Linked DNA regions of Homo sapiens: region 1 is linked to region 2. Evidence: fine-mapped expression QTL. A gene starts in region 2. The other region holds a variant in brackets. All regions are shown on one strand. Distances are between the middles of the regions. Region 1 overlaps TOP3A (DNA topoisomerase III alpha). Region 2 holds the start of LLGL1 (LLGL scribble cell polarity complex component 1).

Region 1 (10,808 bases), 55 kb after region 2:
AAAAAGTGGAAGATGGAAAGTTAGTGATCTGAATCTGAACCTTTCATTAGACATCTCTGCTCTGAGGGACCATCTGTGGGGTGAGAAGAAATTGGGCTCAGTGCTTACCATGTGGAAAGGGAGGAAGGGCTCTCCACATGGGACACAAGGGACAGCCATGAAGGACAGAGGCTGACGAGACCTCCCAGGGTGAGCTCCTTCCAGCACTGGCTGGTACCTGTTGCTTCTGCAAATGTTCCCCAGACCCTCTGCACTCTCGCAGGTCAGAGTAAAAAAAGGTTGGATTCTTTCATTTTAAAAAAAGTTTGAGACAGGGTCTTACTCTGTCACCCAGGCTGGAGTGCAGTGGTGTGATCATGGCTTGCTGCAGCCTCAAACTCTTGGGTTCAAAGGATCCTCCCACTTCAGCCTCCTGAGCAGCTGAACTAAAGACGTGTACAACTGTGCTTGTTATATTTTTAAAAATAGAGACAAGGTCTAACTATGTTGCCCAGGCTGGTCTTGAACTCCTGATCTCAAGCAATCCTCCAGCCTTGGCCTCCCTAAGTGCTGGATTACAGGTGTGAGCCTCCACGCCCTGCCGGGGTTGGATTCTTTTTATTTTTTTAAATTTTTAAATTTTTTTTGAGACTGAGTCTCGCTCTGTCGTCCAGTGGCGCAATCTCAGCTAACTGCAACCTCCGCCTCCCGGGTTCAAGCAATTCTCCTGCCTCAGCCTCCTGAGTAGCCGGGTCTACAGGCGCACACCGCCACACCTGGCTAATTTTTTGTATTTTAGTAGAGACAGGGTTTCACCATGTTGCCCTGGCTGGTCTCGAACTCCTGAGCTCAGGCAATCCGCCCCCCACAGCCTCCCAAAGTGCTGGGATTACAGGCATGAGCCACTGCACCCGGCCTGGGTTCTTTATTAAAGCAATGAATTCTGGATGTCCTGGCTTAACTAGATTAAGAGGGAATGAAGCTTCTTCTGAAGGATCAGTGTTACCACAGCCATTTCCTTGCATTACACCGTCCTTCTCAGGACGTCTATGAGAAGCCCTGGGCAGCCTGGACAGGGACTGCCCCATGAGTGCTGGTGGCTCACTTGGGGCTTTCTGCAGGTGAAGGAAGCAGCCCTGGGAGCTTCTTCCTTTGGCACACAGTGGGCTTCAGCTGGGACTGCACCAATCCTCTGCTAACAGCAACCATCCTTGGGGGGTCCGAGGGAGCAGCTGCGTGACTTTTCAGCAGTGGCTATGGTCACTCCTGAGGCCTGGGAAGAGGGTCACTGTCCAGCAGAGCTGGCCTGCTCCAGAGTGATCTGGACCTTGTGCCCCTTAACACAAGAAGGCCCGACTCCAAAGGCCAACACTGTCCTCTAAGTTTCCAGGACACTAAATGGCCACTTGGTCCTGGTTAACTCATTTCTAAACACAAAGGGGACAGGTCTGAGAAAGTGGCGTTCTCTACCCTACCCTGAGCTCATCTGTTCTGAGGACAAAAGGGACGGGTGTGTCCAGGCTGGTGGCAAAGGCTGCATTTCCGGGGTTTCTTTGCTGTGGACCCCATGTCTGAGGAACTGGCCCGGGGCCTTTTGCTTCTGGCTTCCGACTCCAGGGTTCTTCCTCTGTCTCCTGTCCAGGACGGGGCTCCAGAAGTCCCTGTCGGGAGAGTCAGGGGAGGGGTGAGGTTAGAACTGACATGCAGAAGTGGCAAGTCCTGAACACGGTGGCTCATGCCTGTAATCCCAGCACTTTAGGAAGCTGAGGGAGGAGGATTGCTTGAGCCCAGGAGTTCAAGATCAGCCTGGGCAACATGGTGAAACCTTGTCTTTAAAAAATGCAAAAATTAGCCAGGTGTGGTGTATGCCTGTGGTCACAGCTACTCGGGAGGATGCCTGAGCCTGGGAGGCTACAGTGAGCTGTGATCACACCACTGCACTCCAGCCTGGGCAACAGAGCAAGACCCTGTCTCAAAAAAAAAAAAAAAAAAAAAAAGAGCAGCAGACGATAAGGCTGAACCAACTTTTTTTTTTTTTTTTTTTTTTTTTGAGATGGAGTCTTCGCTCTGTCACCCAGGCTGGAGTGTGGAGTGCAGTGGCGTGATCTCCACTCACTGCAAGCTCCACCTCCCGGGTTCACGCCATTCTCCTGCCTCAGCCTCCCGAGTAGCTGGGACTACAGGCACCCGCCACCACGCCCGGCTACTTTATTTTTTGTATTTTTAGTAGAGACGGGTTTCATCATGTTAGCCAGGATGGTCTCGATCTCCTAACCTTGTGATCCGCCCGCCTTGGCCTCCCGAAGTGCTGGGATTACAGGCGTGAGCCACCGTGCCCGGCCTTTTTTTTTTGAGGTGGAGTCTGGCTCTGTCGCCTAGGCTGGAATGCAGTGGTGCAATCTTGGCTCACTGCAAGCTCCGCCTCCCGGGTTCACGCCATTGTCCTGTCTCAGCCTCCCGAGAGTAGCTGGGACTACAGGGACCGACCACCATGCCCGGCTAATTGTTTGTATTTTTAGTAGAGACGGGGTTTCACTGTGTTAGCCAGGATGGTCTCGATCTCCTGACCTCGTGATCCACCCGCCTCGGCCTCCCAAAGTGCTGGGATTACAGGCATGAGCCACCGCGCCCGACCGGCTGAATCAGTTTTTATACAGCCATGTACACCCCACCAGCCAGCCTCCCTTCACACTGTGTCCAACTCTGTAAGGTTGAGGTGCGATGTGCCTGCTGCCTTATGTTACCTGACACCTCTCCCTCAAGAATCCTAAGCTTTGGAGACATTGTCCCACACTCACTTGGTAAGTGGACTTTCATGCCGGCCCTTTTTACAGAGGCAGAAACCCAAGCAAGCTGGCCTGTGTGGTAGGGTGGGAAAGACAAGCAGCCTATGACCGGCAACCTGCGGCCCACCTCCATGCAGGAAAGTCCAGCTCTGGATCCCTTCCTGTCCCCTCAACAGGCCTTTCCAGACCAGCTGCTCATTTACCCAGGACAGTCAGTCAGCCAGCCTGGAGGTCAGATACCATGTCCTTCCAAGTGGGGAGACAAGAGGCCAGACTGCATCTCACTTCAAATGTGGGTCTCTCACTGCAATGGCCATCTCTGGGCCCCATTAGCACTGGTAGCCAGTTCCAAGTCCCACAGTTTTTACCAAACCTCTGGTTTCTTTCTGTGCATGCCGGGCTAGTGACACATGTGTAAGAATCATAGTCTGAGACTAAACTCCTTTCTAAAACAGGAACCCTATGAATGTAGGCAGGGACCATCTTGTTGAGCAAACTTGAGGCAGAGAGGCTAAGTCATTTGTTCAAGGTTATACTGCTGAGCTTTGGAACCAGATTTGCTCAACTCCAAAGCTCCCACTAGGCCTTTGGGTCATTCTCAGCTACTTAAGCTCTGTTGTGCACTGGAGCAGGAGGAACCATTCAAAGTGCCTCCACGTACACCATTCAACTTGATGCAATGTCCAGGTGCCACTTCTCATGACACCCAGTTCCCGGACATTGGCCCAAGCTGTGTCACCCTGGGCAGGTTCCTAAATATCATCGGGGTTGGCATCTTCATCTGAAGAAATGAGGCTGGGCCAGGCACGGTGGCTCACGCCTGTAATCCCAGCACTTTGAGAGGCCAAGGCAGGTGGATCACCTGAGGTGGAGTTCGAGACCAGCCTAACCAACAGGGTGAAACCCCCGTCTCTACTAAAAATACAAAATTAGCTGTGCGTGGTGGTGCATGCCTGTAATCCCAGCTACCTGGGAGGCTGAGGCAGGAGAATCATTTGAACCTGGGAGGTGGAAGTTGCAGTGAACCAAGATTGCACCATTGCACTCCAGTCTGGGCAACAAGAGCAAAACTCAGTCTC[C/CA]AAAAAAAAAAAAAAAAAAAAAGAAATGAGGCTGATGCTTATGGTCTGCCAAGGGTCACGACAGCTGCAAGGGCACATGGCCATGGGACTGGGAAGGCCTATGTACTCATCCTGGTGTCTGTTGCTATGGGACCCTGAGCAATACCCACTTCATGTGTCTGGGTCTCACCTTTCTCACTTATAAGTAAAATTGTGATCATAATGCTTACCCAATGAGGATGGAAGATGCACAGGAAGTATACTTAGCATAGTGCCAGGCATAGGGCAAGTGACACCATTACTGGTAGCTACCCTTTAATTTGGAATGAGGACTGTACAATTATCACCTTGCTGAAAGTGATCAAGTGAGGAAAAGTGAGGTGCAAGGCAGCCCAGGTGCCCCTCCCAATCCCACCATGACCCTGCCTTGCCTTCTTTCTGCTGTCCCCAGTCTCTGAGGTAAACACCTGAAAACTGAAGGCAGGGATTCCCATGCCCCTCCCTGCCTCACCTGGAGCGGTGTTCTCATCGACCCACTGGAAAAAGCCACACTGCTGCTCTCTCGGCTTGGCACATGTGTGGAACTGGCGCCCCTTGTTGGGTCCATCCTTCTGCACAGTCCGTGTGACGGAGGGCTGGCTGCAAAGGCAGGATGTGCCACTACCACTGCCATCACCAGGGTTGCCAAACCCACCTAGGTGGATCCCTGGGCCTGGTGGGCATCCCAGGGAGGCGCCCAGGGGTCTATATGCCAAGGCAGGAGGCCCTCCTGCTCCCGGATTGGGGCTGTCTGCCCACAGGAAGAAGTTGCAGCTACCTCCGTTGCACTTAAAGAACTGCCGGCCCCGGTTGGGGCCCTCCTTACGGACAGTGAGCAGCACAGCCTCCTGGCCACAGTTGCAGGTCACAGAATTGCTTTCACCAGCAGCCGTGGGTGGTGGGAGGGTCTGGGCCAGAGCCTTTGAGGACCCAGTCTGTCTGCTGTCAGCAGGCTGGGGGTGCTGGCTGTTGTCCATCCTGTTCAGGGACTGGTTAGCCTGCAGGCGGCCAGAGGGCTGGCTAGCCCTGGGGGGGCCCCCTGAAAATCTCAGGTCCAGGATCTCCCTCAGGGTGTCGTCGCATCCGCCGATGCAGCAAACAAACTCCAGAGGCATGGTCGGGGGAAGGCTACCGCGCTTAAACTTTAACTTTAACCTAGTGAGGCCAGAAGATGAGAAAAAACATTAACAACCAGATGCCAGCTTCTCCTTAGTCCAGTGAGGGCTGCTTTAGCCCTAGGCCTCTCTCCACCATTCCTTATGCATCAGGAAGCCCACACAAGTCCCCTGTGAGGCCCTCTATCAGCCCACCACAAGCCCCCACCAGTCATCACAGGAGTGGACAGTGGGAAACAGTGCAGATGAAATCTAAGATCCCAGTAATTCACTAAAATAAAAACACCTCTGAGAAGTCCCATGTCTCTGTATCAGCAGTTCTCCAAGTGTGGTTCCAGGGTGCCTGAGCCCTTTCAAGGAGAGTGCAAAACTCTTTTATAGGCCAGGTGTGGTGGCTCAAACCTGTAATCCCAGCACTTTGGGAGGCTGAGGCGGGCGGATCACAAAATCAAGAGATTGAGACCATCCTGACCAACATGGTGAAACCCCATCTCTACCAAAAATACAAAAATTAGCTGGGCATGGTGGCACGCGCCTGTAGTCCCAGCTACTCGGGAGGCTGAGGCAGGAGAACCTCTTGAACCTGGGAGTCAGAGGTTGCAGTGAGCCAAGATTGTGCCACTGCACTCCAGCCTGGTGACAGAGCAAGACTCTGTCTCAAAAAAAATTCTAAGAGGTTATGTCTATTTTGCTCTTATTCTTCCATGTGTATACAACGGAGTTTCCTGGAGGTTCCAGCACATGCAATGACTCAGCAGGCTGACTGCAGAAGCAGATACGGGAATCCAGCTCTCTTCTATTAAGCCAGACATACAAATTGCAAAATGTAAAACAATGTCATTAATGTCATTATTATTTTGCTTTTGAAAATAGGTATTTTATTACCCTAAAAAACAAGTTATTTACAGTAGTATGCAATGCATTTACTAGAAATAAATTATTAAAATTTTTTTTTTTGAGACAGAGTATCATTCTGTCGCCCAGGCTGGTGTGCAGTGGTGCAATCTCGGCTCACTGAAAGTTCTGCCTCCTGGGTTCACGCCATTCTCCTGCCTCAGCCTGCCGAGTAGCTGGGACTACAGGCGCCCACCAGTACGCCTGGCTGATTTTTTGTATTTTTAGTAGAGACGGGGTTTCACCATGTTAGCCAGGATGGTCTCGATCTCCTGACCTCGTGATCCACCCACCTCGGCCTCCCAAAGTGTTGGGATTACAGGCGTGAGCCACCACGCCTGGCCATTTTTTGTATTTTTAGTAGAGACAGTGTCTCACCATGTTAGCCAGGATGGTCTCGATCTCCTGTCCTCGTGATCCGCCTGTCTCGGCCTCCCAAAATGCTGGGATTACAGGCCTGAGCCACCAGGCTCGGCCTATTCATTTATTTCTAGAGACAGGGTCTGGCTCTGTCATTCCAGGCTGGAGAGCAGTGGTGAAATCATGGCTCACTACAGCCTAGACCTCTAGGATCAAGCGATCCTCCTGCCTCAGCCTCCTGACCAGCTTGGCCTATAGGCATATGTCACCACATCTGGCTAATTTAAAATTTTTTTTGGCCAGGTGCAGTGGCTCACATCTATAATCCCAGCACTTTGGGAGGCCAAGGTGGGTGGATCACTTGGGGCCAGGAGTTCGAGACCAGCCTGGCCAACATGGTGAAACCCTGTCTCTACTAAAAATACAAAAAGTGGTCAGGCATAGTGGTGCATGCCTGTAATCCCAGCTACTCAGGACGCTGAGGCAGAAGAATCACTTCAACCCAGAAGGCGGAGGTTGCAGTGAGTCAAGACTGCGCCACTGCACTTCAGCCTGGGCAACCCAGCGAGACTGTCTTAAAAAAAATTTTTTTTTAAATAAAAATTTTTTTTTTTAAAGAGATGGGGTCTTGCTACGTAGCCCAAGCTTGGATGTTGTATTTAATATGTGAATAATTTCCTAAGCCTGGTGTAGCAATCATCTATCTGGAGAGGGCAGGGAAAGAGCCCTTCATGGTTCTTTGCCCATGGCCCACTCCAAACAGGGTCATACCTGCCAAAGCAGTGACAGCATGGAACACAACAGAACTGGACCAGCCCTGCTGAACTGGCTGCTGCAGAACACAGCTACGCCCCTGCAGGGCCTGAGTGGAATCCCCGACACTCCTCTCTGGGTTCTGGCAGGAGCAAGGGAAAGATGGTGTACACACTCCAGAGGAGGCACCTGACTCAGGTGCCCAGCTCACCTGTACACAGGGTGTGGCTGACAAACTGGACACACACTGCTGTCCCTGCTGGCCTCCAGCACCGAGTCAGGAAGCCACACAGCTGAGCGACACTCTGGGAAACCCATGCAGCTGAGGTAGAACCTGGGGACAAAGTGCCATGTCAGATGATAGGAGTGCAGGAGATGCTCTCCGCTGTTGGCCATCAGCTAAGGCAGCCTTTCCTCAGCTGCCCGAGGACAACATTCCCTTTTCTGGATGACACTTAACTGGATACACAAGCACTCATATTGAATTGATTGGGAAAAATGAGCCTTCTCACATCCCAAAAGCACAAAGCAGCTATTGCTGGCCCTGCTTTCTATTTAGAAAACCAACAACCAACCAAGCTGACGCCAGGGGCTCTGTGCTGTGCACTCACACATTCTTGCCTTTCTGCCTCGTGCCAAGTCTGGGCAGTGTCAGGGGCCCCCTCAGTTTGCATGTGAGTAAACAGTGGCTTGGTGTGGCCTGGAAACCTGCCCAGAGACATGCATGCATGTGTGGATGGGAGCCAGGAATGGAAACCCATCTGTTTGTGACAAAGCCTCACCTGCAACATCTACACCCCACCCACTGCCCATCCATCCCATCCCGGTCTCTCCTGGCCAATGTTTTTCAACACCTTGCAGTCATGAAACGTTAGGGTTTGACTAGCTAATATGCATGTGATTTACAAATTCCTCATGAGTGTGCCTGGGTACACTATGAAGGAAAAAAAAGCCCCGAACTCCAATCATTTAAATAAGAAATTTACAATCTCAGAAATGGAAATTAACAGATAAATCATGGAGTGGCAAATCCCACAAGATAATCTCCTGACCTTCTGGAGTAACTCAGAGAAGCATTACAAAAGAATAACAGAAGAACAAACGAATAACTAAAGAATAATAATAATTCTCCAATTCAGAGAATTGGAGAATTCAGAGCTAAAACAAAAGTAGTTATTCTCTCTCCTTATATTCCAATGAGTACTAATCCAATAACCTACCGATAGCAAGGAAAACCCATCGACAGCATTTATTAAGTGCTGAAATATACGCCCAGTCATTGGGCTAAGCCTAGAGTGGCACTGGCTTCTGTCTGTGAGTGACGCGAGCCCTGACACCTGCTTCCAGGTCTGGCCCATAGACCTCTTGTTTCTGAGAGCCTGGGTGGCCTTCTCTTCACTTGGGCCAGCCAGGTTAATGATGGCTGGAGGTGAGGAGTTGAGAAACCTCCTTTCTTATTCAGCAGCAAGGAGCACAGCAGTCCCAGGTGGGCCAGGCAGGATGGAAAAAGGCAGTGAAAACCCGGTTTCAAACTCTGCTGCCCACCACGGCTGCTTGACTCCAAGCAAGCACCTCAGCCCTCTAAGCTGCATAAAAATCCCTGCCTTGCAGGGTAGTTAGGAGAATGGGATGAGGTAATGCTTACAGAGCACCACCCTGCATTACACCAGTGAGGGACGGCACCTGATGAATGATGGCTGCCACCCCTCCACCTCGTCTTTCCCCGTGAACTTCCTCCAGTGGCCAGCCACTGGCTCCAACAACCTGATGTGAAGCTAAATTGCCCACTCAGATCTACTATATTTAAAGCGAAAAGGGAGTTGAGATTTTCAGGCCCCATTCAGAACTAAAACTAGGAGAGAACAAAAGTAGTATCTGCTGAGTATCTACAACACATCAGGCAATGTGCTATATAGTCCTGACCATTTTCACCAAATCCTCACCCTTAACACAGCCTTGTAAGTACTGACATTTTATAAAAGAAGAAATTGGGGTTCAGAGCAGGTAAGTAACTTGCTTCAGGCCACACCACTTATATGCGGCATAAGTGGCATTTGAACCCAGACCCACCTAGATCTGAAGCTCATGCTCCTCCATGTGTTACACATTGGGTATATGATGTCCTATCCACAGGGGACAAAAAAACCCCACTATCATTCAGTTTCTCACCTGCTCTGAATTCCCATAGTGCTTTACACCTCAAAGGCCTGATCCCACCCTGCTATGCTTTTAGGCCAACACCTTGCCTGCAGGTTGGCAACAACAGGCCTGTCTTGAAAGATTCCATGGAGTGAAATGGCAGGGTCTTTCGAGCTACGGCTGACACCGCAGGTGCTGGGGAGCAGAGGTGGGGGCAGAAGGCAGCGCACTCACCCGCCATTCTTCTTGGTCTTAAGGACCATGTCCTTGTTGCACTGTGGGCACTTCCTGATGGGCTCTGGCATGGCTGGGTAGATATCTTCTTGCTGGGCCAACTCTGTCCCATTCCCAAAGTACTGGGCCAAGGCCTCGTCCAATCTGAAGAAAAGGCAAAGACAGACACCCATCAGCCAGCAATCGCTGCAAAGGCACCTACAACACTCTTACATGCACACAACAGGCGTGACCTTGAGAACCAGCTGGTCAGTGAGCCGCAGGCCTCCTGCAGAGAACAGACGGCAGACAGAAGACTGAGCTCACCATGGGCCCTGGTGCCGAACCAACTCTTGGGAGGAGAGTCCAGATACAGGCAGATGCTTCTGCTTGTCACCAGCCCACATTAAAAAGTAAAACTGGGCCAAATGTGGTGGCTCACGCCTGTAATCCCAGGCCGAGGCGGGCGGATCACCTGAGGTTGTAATTTCGAGACCAGCCTGACCAACATGGTGAAACCCCGTCTCTACTAAAAATACAAAATTAGCCAGGCATGGTGGCGCATGCCTGTAATCCAAGCTACTCAGGAGGCTGAGGCAGGAGAATCGCTTGAACCCAGGAGGCAGAGGTTGTGGTGAGCCAAGATCACGCCATTGCACCCTAGCCTGGGCAACAAGAGCGAAACTCCATCTCAAAAAAAAAAAGTAAAACTGCACAGGGTCCATGTACAAACTCCAGGAGTGTCTGTCTGTATTAAGTCTAAACTAGCTCATGCCTGCCTTTTCACAACTGGCATGGGGTACTCTAAAGAACAGAAAATAACAAACTGTTATCTTCTATTACAGTCTCACAACACACATCAGACACCAGATGTATGGGAGTTTTCCCCATACACCAAGCAACTCTCCCGCCACACACCAGTTGGACATCCTCTAATTCAATTCAATTCTGACACTATGCACCTGGAGATCCATCTAACGGTTAAGGGCTCAGTCCCAGAAGACTGCTGCCCCAAATTCCCTCAGATGTCAGTCACAAATCCCAGGCTGTGACCTGTGCTTCTGACTGACTGGCTATAAACTGGGGTTCCTCAGACCCCCTCCTTGGTTTGATTCTCAATAGAGTGGCTCACAGAGCTCAGGGAAACACTTTACTTATGCTTACCCGTTAATTACAAAGGATCCAGGTGAATACCCAGATGGAAGCAATGCACAGGGCAAGGGATGTGGGGAAGGGGTAGCTTCCATGCCCTCTCCCAAACACCCACCCTCCAGGAGTCTTTACCTGTTTAGCTATTTGGATGTGCCCCAAACCCAATTGTTTGATTTGTTTTTGTTGTTGTTGAAGAAGTCTCACTCTGTTGCCCAAGCTGGACTGCAGTGGGGCAATCTCGGCTCATTGCAACCTCCACCTTCCGGGTTCAAGCAGTTCTCCTGCCTCAGCCTCCCAGGTAGCTGGGACTACAGGTACGC
Region 2 (15,827 bases):
AGGTTGCAGTGAGCCCGAGACCGTGCCATTGCACTCCAGCCTGGGCAACAGAGCCAGACTCTGTCTCAAAAAAAAAAAAAAAAAAAAGCTATTTAAATTAATTTCACCTGTTTTCTGTTACTGTTATATCTGGGTACTCAATAATGAAAATTACATATGTGTCTTGCATTATATTTCTGTTGGATGGTACTGGTCTAGAAAACTATAGAGCTGGGCACAGCAGCACACCCTGTATTCCCAGCTACTCAGGAGGCTAAGCGGGAGGATTGCTTAAGTCCAGGGGTTATCATGGCTGATTGCAGCTGATCAAGGTAAGGTCACTGAACATCGAGCTGTGAAGAAATGTGCAGTAACACCCCAATATATAGTGTTTCCACCATACAGATACAATAGATGTAATCCAAGAGTACAGATAATAGGAAAATGTGGCAAAATAAGTAGGAAATGCTTAGTTTTTAATATTACCCTTAGTTTTTAGTGTAATTTTAATTTTATATAATTAATTTTTAATGACTTTAACAACTGACTCACAAAAGTTCTTGAAAATTTGCCATTTGGCTCTTGCAGAGGGCTCCAGCACACCACTAGATTCCCATAGAGAGTTTGAGCAGAGGAGTGATGTGAACAGATGTAGGATCACTGGTGCTGCTGTGCAGAGGACTGTCAAAATCAATAAGAAAACCACTTTCTTAGCTGAGTGCAGTGGCTCACGCCTGTAGTTCCAGCACTTTGGGAGGCTGAGGTGGGTGGATCACCTGAGGTCAGGAGTTCAAAACTAGCCTGGCCAACATGGTGAAACCCTGTGTCTACTGAAAATACAAAAATTAGCCAGCCTGGTGGTGGGCGCCTGTAATCCCAGCTGCTCGGAAGGCTGAGGCAGGAGAATTGTTTGAACCCGGGAGGCAGAGGTTGCAGTGAGCTGTGATCGTGCCATTGCACTCCAGCCTGGACGACAAGAGTGAAACTGTCTAAAAGAGAGAGGAGAGAGAAAGAGGAGAGAGAGAGAAAAGAAGAAAGAAAAGAAGAGAAAGAGAAAGAAAAGAAAAGGAAAGAAAGGAAGGCCTGGCACGGTGGCTTACACCTGTAATCCCAGCACTTTGGGAGACCGAGGTGGGCGGATCACGAGGTCAAGATATCGAGACCATCCTGGCCAACCTGGTGAAACCCTGTCTCTACTAAAAATACAAAAAAAATTAGCCGGGCATGGTGGCAGGCACCTGTAATCCCAGCTACTTGGGAAGCTGAGGCAGGAGAATCGCTTGAACCCGGGAGGCGGAGGTTGCAGTGAGCCGAGATCGCGCCATTGCACTCCAGCCTGGGTGACAAAGTGAGACTCCGTCCCCCCCCCCAAAAAAAAAAAAAAGAAAGAAAAGAAAAAAGAAAATCCACTGTCTTTGTGAGAGATGGAAAACTAAGGGCTCGGGCAGTGTCAGGGCTGGGGTCCTCCAGTTAGGTGTGAGGCGCTTGCTGCCGCAGTTCCTCCTGTGTCCACAGTGTGGCAGCATAGCCTGAGTGATGGTGCTTCAGAGTAGAGGGCAAGGGCCAGCAGCTGTCCCTTGGTTTGGATGGGGAACTGAGGTCCCCAGAGACCCCCGAACCTGCCAGAGGTTACTCAGAGCCAATAACTTAGGTTCCCCACTGCTTCTGCCCTTCTCAGCCAGGGATCTCAGGGCTAGTAGGGTTTTCCTCCCACTTCCTTACTAATCCTAGTAGGTGTGGAGGGGCACTGGGACCTGTGGGTCAAGCAGATGCCATCAGGTCCACCCCCAGGCCACACATAACAGCAGTCCCAGCCTGGGCCCCACGCTACCTCTCTTGGCCCCAGCTCCTTGGAGAGTTCTAGACATCTTTGCAAGTGCCAGTACTCTGCCTCAGGCAGCTCTCTTCCATGCTACCTTCTCTGGCCCCCTCCCAGGCTTTTCAGGGGTGCCTTTGGGCTCCCCCACCCAGACCGGGGCCTCCTTTGGCACTGCCTAGAGTGTACTCTGTGGTCCCAGTGTTTCCACTCCAGGCTGGGAAACAGGGCCCTAACTCCCACCTTCTCCTGCACTCTCATTGAGTGAGGCCATTAACTTACTGTCTCATTTAATTCTCGCTGCAACCTCTGAGACGTCATGAGGGGACTAGGTTTACATCCTGATTCTGCAATATACTAGCTGTGTGACTTTGGGCAAGTTAACCTCTCTGGCCTCAGTTTCTTCCTTTGTAAAATGGGCATAAGATTAAAGGAATAACTAGTGCCTGGCACAGACTAAGTGCTCAGTGTTAATAAATGGTAGCAATTAATATTAGCCCGCATTTCGCAGATGAGAAAACAGGCCCAGAGAGGGAAAGTGGCAGAGGCAGGATTAGCACTTGGGGCACCAGAGAGAAGTGAAACACAAAGCCCCACCTTCCAACAGGTCTGTGGTAATGTCCACATACCCAGCCCCTTGGGCCTCAATCCTGACAGTCCTTGCAGGGAGCAGGTGTGCCCAGATCCCCGTTCCTGTAGCCCAGCATGAGCCAAGAAAAGCATACTCAGGATCCAGGCTCAGCGAGTGTCAGGGCTGAGAGTCCTGCCTCCAGAGAAGGAGCACTCGGTTAGAGGTCCAGGGACTCATATATTATTCACCTGTCACCTTGGGCAGGTCACTTCTCTGAACCTCAGCTTCCTCCCTTGTATAAAACAAGGACAGAGTAGGTCAGCCCCAACACTCCCCCTACCTGTCTGGCCTTTCTTTCATGGAGGCACACAACACTATTCACTCTCTGTAGATTGAGGAGGCCCTAAATCCATTGCTCCCTTCTGTCTGGACCTAAAGGACACAAGACCTTATTAAGCTTCAGCTTCATTTGCATACCACATGGGATGAGGTATTCACTCCTCCCTGGCTTGGGCTGGTCTGCTGACCCTGTCTTGGAGTCTCAGTAAGCCCACCCTTTCTCCCACTCCCTCATCTCTCTCCTTCCATCCTGGGCCCTGCCTAGCTCTGTCCCAACCTAGACCACTCCAGGAATTTTCCAGCCTGCCAGATCTGGCCCCCCAGGAGCCACTAGGAAGAAGTTGAGTCCGTGGTTTGGGCAGCTCGAGAGGGTCATGGCCTCAGCTGGGATCTGGGCCAGCTTCTGAAAGCCAGGGCCTGCCTTCTTCAGTCAGACTCTTGGTTTTCCTCCCACTTCCTTACTGACCCTAATCTACCTCCCTTGGAGCTTCCCCACTTGTCGCTCCCTGAGATCACCCTTTCTCTTTCCCTCTGCAGAGGAGTGACCAAGTCACTTCTCTACACGTATCTTCCATTTACTGTCTATAAAACAGGGTTGTTCTGGTATCTATGAGGATTCAGGGAGATATGCACAGATATAGCCTTTACTGGGGCACCTACGTCCGAAGACACCTTCAATGCATGCCATCCTGTTCACCTACCTGCCTACTTACATCCCATCAACCACCAAACCGCCACTTCTGTGGACTTAACTCCTGAACAGTATGGATTATTTGTTGTTGTTTTTGTTTGTTTTCTTTTTTTTTTTTTGAGACAGCGTCTCACTCTTGCCCAATCTGGAGTGCAGTGGTGCGATCTTGGCTCACTACAACCTCCGCCTCCCGGGTTCAAGCGATTCTCCTGCCTCAGTCTCTCAAGTAGCTGGAATTACATGCATGCGCCACCACACCTGGCTAATTTTTATATTTTTATTTTTATTTATTTTGTTATTTATTTATTTTTTGAAATGGAGTTTCACTCATGTTGCCGAGGCTGGAGTGCAATATCTTGGCTCACTGCAACCTCTGCCTCCTAGGTTCATGCAATTCTCCTGCCTCTGCCTCCAGGGTAGCTGGGATTACAGGCATGTGCCATACACCTGGCTAATTTTTTGTATTTTTAGTAGAGACAGGGTTTCACCGTGTTAGCCGGGATGGTCTCGATATCCCAACCTCAGGTGATCCACCAGCCTTGGCCTCCAAAAGTGCTGGGATTACAGGCGTGAGCGAGTGGGCCCGGCAATTTTTGTATTTTTAGTAGAGACAGCGTTTCACCATATTGGCCAGGCTGGACTCAAACTCCTGGCCTCAAGTGATCTGCCCACCTTGGCCTCCCAAAGTGCTGGGATTACAGGTGTGAACCACCGTGCCCGGCCTCAGATCTTTAATCTATTTTTTAAAATTGTTTTCTTTGAGACGGAGTCTCACTCTGTCACCCAGGCTGGAGTGCAGTGGCGTGATCTCAGCTTACTGCAACCTCTGCCTCCTGGGTTCAAGTGATTCTCCTGCCTCAGCCTCCTGAGCATTACAGGTATGCACCATCACACCTGACTAATGTTTTTTTTTTTTTGTATTTTTAGTAGAGATGAGGTTTCACCATGTTGGTCAGGCTAGTCTCGAATTCCTGACCTCGTATTCCACCTGCTTCAGCCTCCCAAAGTGCTGGGATTACAGGCGTGAGCCACTGTGCCCGGCTTTAATCTGTTGTTTTAAATGTGTCGAGCATTAATTATGTGCCAGGCGCTATTCTAGGCACAGCTGGTTCACTAGGAACAAACCCTGCTGGGTCCTGTGCTCAACTCTTTTTTTGAGACAGAGTCTCGCTCTGTCGCCCAGGCCGGAGTGCAGTGGCACTGATCTCGGCTCACTGCAACTGCTGCCTCCTGGGTTCAAGTGATTCTCCTGCCTCAGCCTGCCAAGTAGCTGGGACTACAGGTCTGTGCCATCACGCCCGGCTAATTTTTTGTATTTTTAGTAGAGATGGGTTTTCACCGTGTTAGCCAGGATGGTCTTTATCTCCTGACCTCGTGATCTGCCCTCCTCGGCCTCCCAAAGTGCTGGGATTACAGGCGTGAGTCACCGCGCCCGGCCTCAAATCTTGTTTTGAGTCATCTCATTTAGTCCTTACTGCATTTTACAGATGAGGAAATTGAGGCCCAGGGTGGACTCATGGTTTAGCTGAGGTCACCCAATGAGCAAGGGGATGTCTTGGGATTTGAAGGCGGACTCCAGAGCTGGGTGAGAGCCCTATGGGAGCCTAGGAGGAGGTGAGAGGAGGGGGACACCCCACCAAGGAAATGCCGAGAAGGCAGCCCCCCCCTAGCCTGAGATTGACCTGAGGCTGGGAGGCTGAAGGAAGAACCAGCTTCCCCTGCCAGTGCTGCTGACTCAGGAACCCTCCTGCCTCCCCCAGCTCCAAGGATGGGTGGGCACCTGAGATGACCGGGACCCTGTGTTCAGTTGTTTGTCTGGGCTCCCCTGACCCTCAGTTTCTTGTTCTAGCAATGAGCTGACTTGGCATGGCCATCTGTGCCAATCTCTGCCCCCTGGGGCTGCTGTGGTAATCATAGGCCTGGGCTGCCCTGACTTGCGGGGGAGGGGACAGAAAAACAGTCATTAGTGTCCCAGACCCTCCCAGCCTGGGAGATGGTGCCCTCTCTAGTGCCATTTCTGAACCCTGCCTGATGGTATGGGTAGGCTGGGCCTACATGCCCAGGCCTCAGTTTACCCATTTGTATCTGTATACCCATTTGACCCCTCTTAACCTGATCAGATGGGGCCAAGCTAGGCCTCAGGGTCATTTGGGAAAGGAGCTGGTTTAAAATCCAGATTCTGGGGCCCCACTCGCCTGTCATTCACATTTGCAGGACCTAGAATCTGAATTAACAAGTGTGTGTGTGTTGTGGGGTGGGGGTACTGACACTTTGCGAATCCGTTTGCCATGAGACTCTTCCCTGCCTATCCCCTGGCTCCTTCCACTAGGTACACTCCTTACCCATTACAACCCATGTGCACTGTCCTCTCCCAGCAGGACACTGACCCTGGGCCAGATGCCTCTTCTGGGCTCCCACAGCCCCAGTGCATGCCCCATCATAGGACGGTGAGCTATGGTTAGCTGTGGTCTCGACTCAGTTCTGTTGCCCTGCTCCCCAAAAAACTGTGAGATAGGGGTTGGGAAAGGCATGGCTGCTTACTGCCTAATAACCAAGTCCCATTGAAAAATGGGGACTGCTGGCTGGGTGCGGTGGCTCACACCTGTAATCCCAGCACTTTGGGAGGCCAAGGCAGGCAGATCACGAGGTCAGGAGATCGAGACCATCCTGGTTAACACGGTGAAAACCCGTCTCTGCTAAAAATACAAAAAATTAGCTGGGCATGGTGGCACAGACCTATAGTCCCAGCTACTCAGGAGGCTGAGGCAGGAGAATCGCTTGAACCTGGGAGGCAAAGGTTGCAGTGAGCTGAGATTGTACCACTGCACTCCAGCCTGGGCGACCGAGTGAAACTCTGTCTCTCTGTCTCAAAAAAAAGAAAAAGAAAAAGAAAAATGGAGATTGGGTGTCGGGTGCAACGGCTCATGCCTGTAATCCCAGCACTTTGGGAGGCCAAGGCAGGCGGATCATCTGAGGTCAGGAGTTCAAGACCAGCCTGGTCAACATGGTGAAACCCGGTCTCTACTAAAAATACAAAAATTAGCTGAGTGTGGTGGCGCATGCCTATAGTCCGAGCTACTTGGGAGGCTGAGGCAGGAGAATCACTTGAACCTGGGAGGCAGAGGCTGCAGTGAGCCAAGATAGTGCTACTGTACTGCAATCTGGGTAACACAGCAAGACTCCATCTCAAAAAAAAAAAAAGAAAAAAGAAAAGAAAAAGGAAAAAAAGGCTACTCCATAGGCAGAGTTGTCCTTTGTTTTTTTGAGATGGATTTTCACTCTTGTTGCCTAGGCTGGAGTGCAGTGGTGCAATCTCGGCTCACTGAAACCTCCGCCCGCCGGGTTCAAGCAATTTTCCTGCCTCAGCCTCCCGAGTAGCTGGGATTACAGGCATGTGCCACCATGCCCGGCTAATTTGGTATTTTTAGTAGAGATGGGGTTCCTCCATGTTGGTCAGGCTGGTCTCAAACTCCTGACCTCAGGTGATCCACCTACCTCGGCTTCCCAGAGTGCCAGGATTACAGGCGTGAGCCACCGTGCCCGGCCAAGTTGCCTATTTTTGTGGTCATTTCCTGATGATATGCTAAACGTGGATTATTCATATCTCCCCTTTTTAGACCATATAGAGTAACTTCATGACGTTGCCATGACATTTGTAAACTGTCATGGCGCTAATGGGAGTGTAGCAGTGAGGATGTCCAGAGGTCATTCTCGTGGCCATCTTGGTTTTGGTGGGTTTTGGCCAGCTTCTTTACTGCAATCTGTTCTATCAGCAACGTCTTTATGACCTGTATTTTGTGCCGACCCCCTCCTAGCTCATCCTGTGACTTAGAATGCCTTAACCATCTGGGAATGCAGCCCAGTAGGTCTCAGCCTCATTTTACCCACCTCCTATTCAAGATGGAGTTGCTCTGGTTCATATTACCCTGACACATTTAATCTCCACAACAACCCTTTGAGGTAAATACTAATATTATCACCATTTTTACTGATGAGGAAACTGAGGCACAGAGAATTTGAGGTAACTTGTTCCAGGTCACATAGCTTCCAAATGGTAAAGTGGGAATGTGAATCAACGTTTTTTTTTTGTTTGTTTGTTTGTTTTTTTCATTTATCACGCTTGTTGCCCAGGCTGGAGAGCAAATGATCTCGGCTCACTGAAAGCTCCACCTCCTGGGTTCAAGCGATTCTCCTGCCTCAGCCTCCTAAGTAGCTGGGACTACAGGCACCTGCCACCATGCCCGGCTATTTTTTGTATTTTTAGTAGAGACTGGGTTTTTCCCAAACTCCTGACCTCAAGTGATTTGCCCGCCTCAGCCTCCCAAAGCGCTGGGATTACAGGTGTGAGCCACTGCTCCTGGCCTTTTTTTCGAGATGGTCTTGCTCTGTTGCCCAGGCTGGAGTGCAGTGGCACGATCACAGCTCACAGCAGCCTCAACCTCCTGGGCTCAAGCCATCCTCCTGCCTCAACCTCCTGAGTAGCTGGAATTTACAGCTGGGCCACCATGCCCAGCTAATTAAAAAAATATTTATTTATTTTTTTTCTGTAGAGATGAGATCTCACCCTACTGCTCAGTCAGGTCTCAAACTCCTGGGGTCAAGAGATCCTCCCTCCAAGGCCTCCCAAAGTGCTAGGACTACAGGCATGAGCCACCGCGCCCAGCCAGCAACTTCTTAACACTTCCTGTGTGAGGCAGGGCAGGGACCAGAACCCAGACCTCTGAGCTGTCCCTGCTGCCTGTGCTGGTGTGGCGTGGCCAGTGGCCAAAGGGGTCTCATCCTCCTCAGTCCAGCAGCTCTGCCAACAACTAACAGCCTTTGGCTGATGGTCTCAGCTTCCTCATTTGGGATGGGTAATATTGTTGGCTCCCTCGTAGAGCTACTGACAGCACTAAGTCAGCTGAAACCAGGAAAGGGCTTTGAACAGCGCCTGCCCCGCAGTAGACACTTAGGGGCTTTACTGTCGTCATTCTCCCTCCTCTCACCTCCTCACTCACTCCTGGGCCCTCTTCCGGATCCAGCCCCAAATACGGGGAAGGGCTGAACACCGCCGGCCTGGCGTGGGTGGAGGGGGACAGCCAGGCCCCAAGGCTTGGCAGCCGCCTCGGGCTCAGAGGTCAGCTCCTGCTCCCTGGACACAGCTGGTGGGGTTGGGGCCTGTCCTACCTGCCCCACCTAAGCTTCTAGGACCTCCCGCAGCCCCAGCCCTGAGCCAGGCGGCCTATCCTCAGCCTGGAAGGAAAGGTTCAGCCTCGAGGCCATTGTCCAGATGAGAAAAGGCCTGGGAGGTGGGTGGGGACAGGCAGACGGCCCCTGAGAGTAGGGGCAGGGCTAAGCTTTGTTCAGACGCTGTTCTCTGCGGGGGGAGGTCCTTCCCCCATCTCCGTAAAGCTCCAATCCAACCCCAGAACAGTCCCAAATGCCACCTCCTGGGGATCCCGTCTCTTTCTTTGGCTAAGAAAGAATCCCCTGTGCTGTGACACAGAGCCTTTTGCGTTGGGTCCTGAAAGATGTGTAGGAGTTCCCCAGGGGCTGGGGGTGAGGAAAGAATTCCTGACTACAAAGCCAAGGCAAAAGCACGGCGGTGGGAGGTGCTCTGACAGAGCGGGGAACAGACGAAATGGAGTTCTGTGAAATTGGTAAAATATAAACTTGGCAATCACTTGACCAATGGTGTAGATGGGGAAACTGAGGCGCAGAGGGGCCAGGGAGTTGTTCCAGTCAGAGCTGTCTTGGCTTTCGGAACAGGGCTGCCCCATTACATGAGTGGGCACGTCGCTCGCTCTCTGGGAGGAGGAAAAAGTCTCCTCCAAGCCCGGGAACGTGCGCCAATCCCCCTCCAAAGCGCTTCCCCAGCCGCCCGCGCTGGAGCCCCGGCTCATGGACTACAAGTCCCGGCAGGCCCCGCGCCGCGGCGCATGCTAGGCGGGCGTCCCTTCGCGAGCCCGGCCGAGCCCGGGGGCCCAGTTCACCATTGTCTGGCCAACAGGGGCGGGGCGGGCGGCACGGCGGGCTCGCTCACTGGTCGGGCGGCGCGTCCGTCGCGCCCGGCGCCCACCCCCGTGCAGGCCCGGCCCCGCGCGCCCGCGCCCGGGCCGCCTGGCGCCCCGCCCGCGCCTTAGGACCCGCGGGGCCGCGCGGCGCATCCTGCGGGCGGCGGCGGCGGGCGAGGCGCCTGCAGCCGGGCGCAAGATGATGAAGTTTCGGTTCCGGCGGCAGGGCGCCGACCCGCAGCGCGAGAAGCTCAAGCAGGAGCTTTTCGCCTTCAACAAGGTGCGGCGGCGGCCCGGGCCCGGGCTCGGGCGGGAGGGGGCGGGACGGGGGCCTGGGCTGGGGGCCCGGGGTCGGAGCCACGTCGGGCCCGGGGGGCGGGGGCTGGCATGCAGCGCGGCGCGGGGCGGGGCCGGGCCGGGCCGCGCACCCCCTCGGCGGGCCCCGCTCTGGCTCGGACTCTGGGTGGGTCTGGGTCTCCGGCCGACTTTCCGTGTCTGCTCCCCGAGTCTCTGCGGGCCGCTCTGGCCCTGGCTCTGCCAGTCTGTGTGTGTGGGGGTCTGTCTCTGAGACTCTTTGCCTGTCTCTGGGTCTCTGTCCCTCTTTCTCCGCCGCTGACCGGCTGTCTCGCCCCAGTTGTGCCTGTGTGTGTGGTGGGGGTGTCTCTGCCTCTGCCCCTTCCTATCTCTGCCTGTCTCCCTTTATCTCTCTGCCTCTCATTTCTCTTGCTGCCTGTGCGTCTCTGAGTCTTCTTTGCCTGTCTCTCCCTGCGTGTCTCTCTCTCTGTCTCTGTGGAGTCTCTCGACCTCTGTCGCTCACTTCTGTCTCTTTATCCTTTTTCTTAGGGGCTCCATTGCGTCCCTGCTCGGCCCTTGGGACAGCCCTGGGGCCCGGTTTGTTTTGTGCTTTGGCACCCAGGAGGGTGAGAGAGTTAGTGGGGGCGAGGCAGCTGTGGGGGGTGCGGCTGGGAAATCCCTTCAAGGAGCCTCTCCTTCCTTCCCCCACTGCTCCAGGCTCTGCCTTGCCCTGCTCTGCCCTGCCCGGGGCTCCGAGTCCAGGGGACATGCCTGGCTGTGTACTACACTGCACTTCGCATCGTGGGGCCTCAGTTTCCCTAGCTGTGAAATGAGGCTACTTTTCTCCATACTGTGGGCCCTGGCTCCCTCTGCCACATGGGCCAGCTGTCCTGCCTTTCTGCACCAAGGTGGAGTGAGGTGGAGGCTTTTCCTTCCTTTCCCGGAGTGGGACACTAGGGGCCAGGGAAAGGGGCCGCCTCAGCCCCCGCCTCCCTCTGCACTGATGTTAGAGCAGGGCCTCAGCCCACTCCTGGCTCACTGCTCTGGGGACGTTGGTTTTGTCCTCATTCTTACCCCAGAGCCCACTGATGGCAGAGCCTCTCAGTGCTCTTCGAAATTAGAGTTATCTTCAAAATACAGGTGAGAAAATTGAGGTTCTGAGAGGGGTGACGGCTTGCCCGGAGTCAGAGTGAGCTGCACCAATATCTTTCTTGAGTTCTTGTGTCAGTGGGGTTGGATTTTAGCCTTGAGGGGCAGGGATTTTTCCAAGGGGCTGCTGTGGTCCTGGGCCAGTGTTGTGCCAGGCGCCCTGGGCTGCCTTGAGGAGACACTTGTCTTGGAGGAGGCTCTGGGACGGCTGGACCTGGAGTAGTGGAGGCACTGGGATGTCTCAGGGTTTCCCTGCCTAGGTCTGCAGTGATTGCCGATGAGAGCTGCCAGGACCCTCACACGGTGGCTGAGAACCTGCTAGGAACCTGAGAGGGGCCCAGAAGGGAAGCTGGTGCTCCGTGGTCCCCAGATGGCACCTATTTTCTGTGCCGGGGAGGCTGTGAGGGTGAGGTGAGAGGAGAATGGCCCTTCAGGGAAAGGCAGCAACAGGCACAGGGCTAAATGTCACTTTTTTTTTTTTGAAATGGGGTCTCACTCTCACCCAGGCTGGAGTGCAGTGGCACAATCACAGTCCACTGCAGCCTCACAACTCCCTGGCTCAGGTGATCCTCCCATCTCAGCCTCCTGAAGCTGGGACTACAGGCTCGTGTCACCATGCCCGGCTAGTTTTTGTATTTTTTGTAGAGATGGGGTTTCACCATGTTGCCCAGGCTGGTCTCGAACTCCTGGGTTCAAGCTATCTATCCATCCATGTTGGCTTCCCAAAGTGCTAGGATTACAGACATGAGCTGCCATGCCTGGCCTAAATGTCATTTCTTCAGCCAGTGAATTGGGGTGTGCAGTGGGGGCTGGAGACAGATGGGGGTGAAGCTCAGCCCACTCTGGCTAGCCTTGGGGTGGCGGAAAGTAAGGGCCCTCCGCTGAGGATGAAGCGTGGGCAGCAGTGGTGGAAAGTGGGGTGGTCTTGGGGAAGGGACTTAGTCACCTAAGTGGGTAATAGGTGATCGCTAGGGAATAGGCCCCTGATTCCTGAGCTTAGGGGGTGGGAGACAGGTCAGGAGTGAGCAGGGACTTTGGACTCTGAGTCTTGGGTTCAAATCCCAGTCCAGCCCACACATCGCCTGTGGAATGTGCCTTCTCTGTTAATACTGAGCCCCACTGTGTGTGAGGTCTCCAAGGTGCTGGGGACAACAGTAGTTACCAAAAAGGACAAATACCTGTTAACTCAGGTGGCTGATATAGTTGTGCAGGAGACAGTGAAAAGCCAAAACAAAAAAGTAAAATAGACTGTAGTTGGGATGGTAGCCAGTGCTGTGGATCAAATAAAGTAGGGCGAGGGGGTGAGAGGTGTGGCCAGGGCGGCTGCTGCAGCCAGGGTGGCCTTGGGAGGCTTCTCTGAGGAGATTACTCCTGAGCGACAGGAAGTGCTGGAGGAAGTGCGTTCCAGGCAGAGGGGCAGTAGGTGCAAAGGCCCTGAGGCACAAGCCTCCCTTAGCTGGGAGCCCCAGGAGGATCCTGAGCAGGGGAGGGACAAGGATCTGGCTGTGGCTTTCATAGGATCCCTCTGGCCTCTGTGGGAACAGACTGTAGTGAGTACCAATCCAGGCACGTGACGGTGGGGCCTGGAGCAGGGAGGGAGGTGACTTCTGTGTGTTTTGAAACTGAGTTGATGGGGCTCAGAAATGGACTGGACGTGGGGTATGAGGGAAGCAGATGCTGGACAGTGCATGTAACCTCCTTTCCTCGTTTGTAAAATGGGAAGGCTGTGGGGATTTGCGATGCAGTGTCCCGTCTCTGGACCCTGGTTGTAGCGAGGGACTGGCTAGACAAGGTCAGGTGCAGCAAGGGCGTGGTATTATTGGTGGGAGAGAGAAGCCCCAGCCAAATCGCCAACTCTGTCCTTAGGTGGGCTTACTGTCCCAAGGGCCCAGATGAGAGACTGAAGCTTGGAGAGTACTGAGTCTTGGAGAGTACTGTGACTTGCCCAAGGCCAGACAGCTAGGCCGTGACCAAACCAGCTGCCCAGAGGGCTCAGTCCCCACCTGGATGGGCAGAGGCAGGCAGGGAGGGAGGTTCGCGTTACAGGCTGGGAACTGGGGTTTCTTACAAATGTGCATCTTCCTGAGGCAGTGGGTCAGGAATTACCAGTGGTAAAAGTGAAAAATAAATAACAACAACAAGATAAAAGGAGTTACCAGTGGCCCACGTGGGTGTCCTGCACTGGTGTTCAGGATGGGGCTGGAGCTCAGCTGTGCAGGCTTCCCAGGGAGGGCACAGCCAGGCCAAAGACAGGAGACTGGTGCAGAAAGGGTGTGCTGTGAAAGGGGCAGGGGAGCGGGTGGGGAGCTGTTTCATCGACACTCTGGGCACACAGACCCCCTTAACACCATCTCCGCCCCTGATGGTTATGGGAGTCATGTTGCCCAGCTGTTGGCAGGTGGGGAGGTGGGAGGATGCCTTCGGGGTCCAGGCAGAAAGCTACCCCTCTCTGGGCCTCTGTCTCCCTGTGTCTGGGAGGAGTCAAAAGCCTCTGCCTAGCTGATCCTGGATGTTGTCCCTTGACCTCTGACCTCCACTCAGGCCTGTGTTTGGGGAGTGTCATGGTCATCTTGCGGGACTCCTCCGCAAGCTTTAGTCTGTGCCTCTAAAAATGGGGTGCAGAGCCCTTCATGGAGCAGGTGGGGCCTCATCAGTGCCTGCACCTCTGTGAGCCTTGCTTCACCTGTTTGTTGCTGGAGCCTCCATGCAGTGGGGCCCACATGAGCCTGTGTGCATTGAGGGGCACAGGGGCTTGGCAAAGGGCGGGCCTCTGTGGACTATGCACGCGGTACAGTCATGGTGGAGGCTAGGGGTTTAGCCACCTCCCCACCAACTGGAGGCATGATAACCCATTTCACAGTTGAGGACGCTGAGGCACAGAGCAAGTAGACCTGCCTCCTACCCCCAGTGTGTCAGCTGCAGACCCTGGAGGCTGCCTTGGGGTGGGCCTCAGGGTGGGCCATGGCAGAGGTGCCTGGGAGTGCTTACCCCCAGCAGCCCTCCCCTCCTTGCAGACTGTGGAGCATGGCTTCCCCAATCAGCCCAGCGCCCTGGCCTTCGACCCGGAACTTCGCATCATGGCCATCGGCACCAGGTCTGGGGCTGTCAAGATGTATCCTTTGCAGGACAGGTGTTCAGGGTCTGTTCAGGACCACCTGCCTGTAGTTCCCTGTGCTCTGGGGTCCCAGTCTTGGCAGTGTCCAGCTCGAGAGGAGGACAGAGGTGCTCTGATGGGCAGTAGTGGGGGCTTCTGCGGAGGTTGGCGTGGCTTCTGTACCTGAGACAACTGTGCAGAGATGATGGGGTCCTTTTGCTGAGAGACGGGTGGTGGGGGGTCAGTTTGCAGTAGCACAGCTGTCCCTTGCTACGTGTCAGCCAGCCAGTTACCTAGGCGACCCTGCCATCGTCCCAGCAACTCTGGGGAGGCCAGGCAGAAGGCTGGGCTATGATACCCATGGAGGGTGGCAGGTGGGCTGGGGGCCCTGGTGAGCTGATGCACACATGTGTGAATGTGAAGACACATGTGTTCAGCAAAGGGGCCTGGGGGCAGTGCCAGGCTCGGCATGGTGAGCACAGCACGGCCCCCACCTGGATACTGGCTGCTGCACAATGGGCTGTGTGAGCCACACAAAGCGGGCATTTTCCCTGCAGGCCTGGGGTGGGGGTGGGGGCAGGCCGGCAGCTCAGTGTCTCCTTGCCAGCCCTGGAGAATCCCACCCCAACTGCTCTTGGGGAAGCCGAGGTGCCAGGGTCTGGCTGATGGCGGCTTGGTGAGGGGTGCTGACCCCTACCCCTCCTGTGTGGCCTTCTGGGTTTCAGTATCCTGGTTTCAGACATCAGTTCCCAGAAAATGTGTCAGTGCTGGGAAAGGGGAGGGTGTGGGATGGGGGTCTCCTCACCCCAGGACTGGGGGCACTGATCAGGCAGGGATGGGACTCTGAGCCTGTGGTTTGTGAGCTCTTTGCCTACTCTGGGGAGTGTGGATGGGCTGAGATGTCCCCTTCTCTCCCATGGCCCCAGCGGCCTCTGTTGGTGAGTGTGGCAGTGCTCTGGGCCCCACATGCTCCGCTGCCTGGCCTGCTGCTCCCACTCCTGTGGGTGCTGCGCTGCGTGCGCACATGTGTCCCTGCAGCCTTCAGGTGTCCCTCCTGTGTTGGGGTCTCCAGTGCACTTGTCCTCAGGCTCAAAAAGAACCTGAAGTGCAGATGAGGAGACTGAGCCTCAGAAAGGAGGCTGGAGCCCGGGGTCCTCTTCCCTTTTTCCCCTGACTGCCACTGCCTGGAGCCCCTTGGGTTGGGAAACTGAGGCTGGAGAGGGCCAGCCCTGGTCACTAGAAGCTGCCCCTCCCCCTGCCAGGCCAGCCCCATCTCCTTGACGACCCTGGTTCCCGCCCAGCTGCTCCTGTCCCCTCTTTTGTCCCTTCTTCGGAGTTTCTCGCCAGGCTCCTGTAGGGAATCTGAGCTCAAGCTCCAGGCAACGGCTCCTGTGTTGTCACCGGGGCAACGTTGCTGACTCCTCCCTGCACCCTCTGTCATGGGGCCCCCTCAGGCCCTGCTGTCCACCATCAGCCCTGGAGTTGCCGGGACTCAGGCACTGACACTGGGCACTTCAAGCAGGTCATCCACCCCCTCCAAGTCTGTGTGCTCATCTGTGAAATGGGCAGGCTGGAGTCTCTCCTCCCTCATGATGGCAGTTGTTGGCTGCCTGCTTTGGAGGGAGGTGGGTTTTTTTTGTTTTGTTTTGTTTTTTTGAGATGGAGTCTTGCTCTTTGTTGCCCAGGCTGGAGTGCAGTCGCACAGTTTTGGCTCACTGCAACCTTTGCCTCCCGGGTTCAAGCAGTTCTCTGCCTCAGCCTCCCAAATAGCTGGGATTACAGGTGCCTGCCAGCATGCCCGGCTAATTTTTGCGTTTTTAGTAGAGACGAGGTTTCACCATCTTGGCCAGGCTGGTCCTCAACTCCTGACCTTGTGATCTACCTGCCTCGGCCTCCCAAAG

Evidence for each region.
Region 1: its variant is fine-mapped to the expression of LLGL1 in whole blood (INTERVAL, PIP above 0.99).

The regions. Positions count from the first base shown.
Region 1 is chr17:18,273,341-18,284,148 of GRCh38, forward strand. TOP3A (DNA topoisomerase III alpha) reads right to left here. Exons shown (of 19, transcript NM_004618.5): 16 at 9,358-9,501; 17 at 7,196-7,318; 18 at 4,335-5,017; 19 at 1-1,640. The coding sequence ends at 1,462. Among named protein-coding and RNA genes, the nearest start is that of MIEF2, 18 kb to the left of the region's middle. The variant C/CA (reference allele first, on the strand shown) is at 3,845.
Region 2 is chr17:18,216,095-18,231,921 of GRCh38, forward strand. LLGL1 (LLGL scribble cell polarity complex component 1) reads left to right here and starts at 9,541. Exons shown (of 23, transcript NM_004140.4): 1 at 9,541-9,669; 2 at 13,847-13,944. The coding sequence starts at 9,589. RefSeq lists enhancers at 1,487-1,586, 14,425-15,260, 15,261-15,827 and silencers at 9,203-9,682, 9,833-10,002.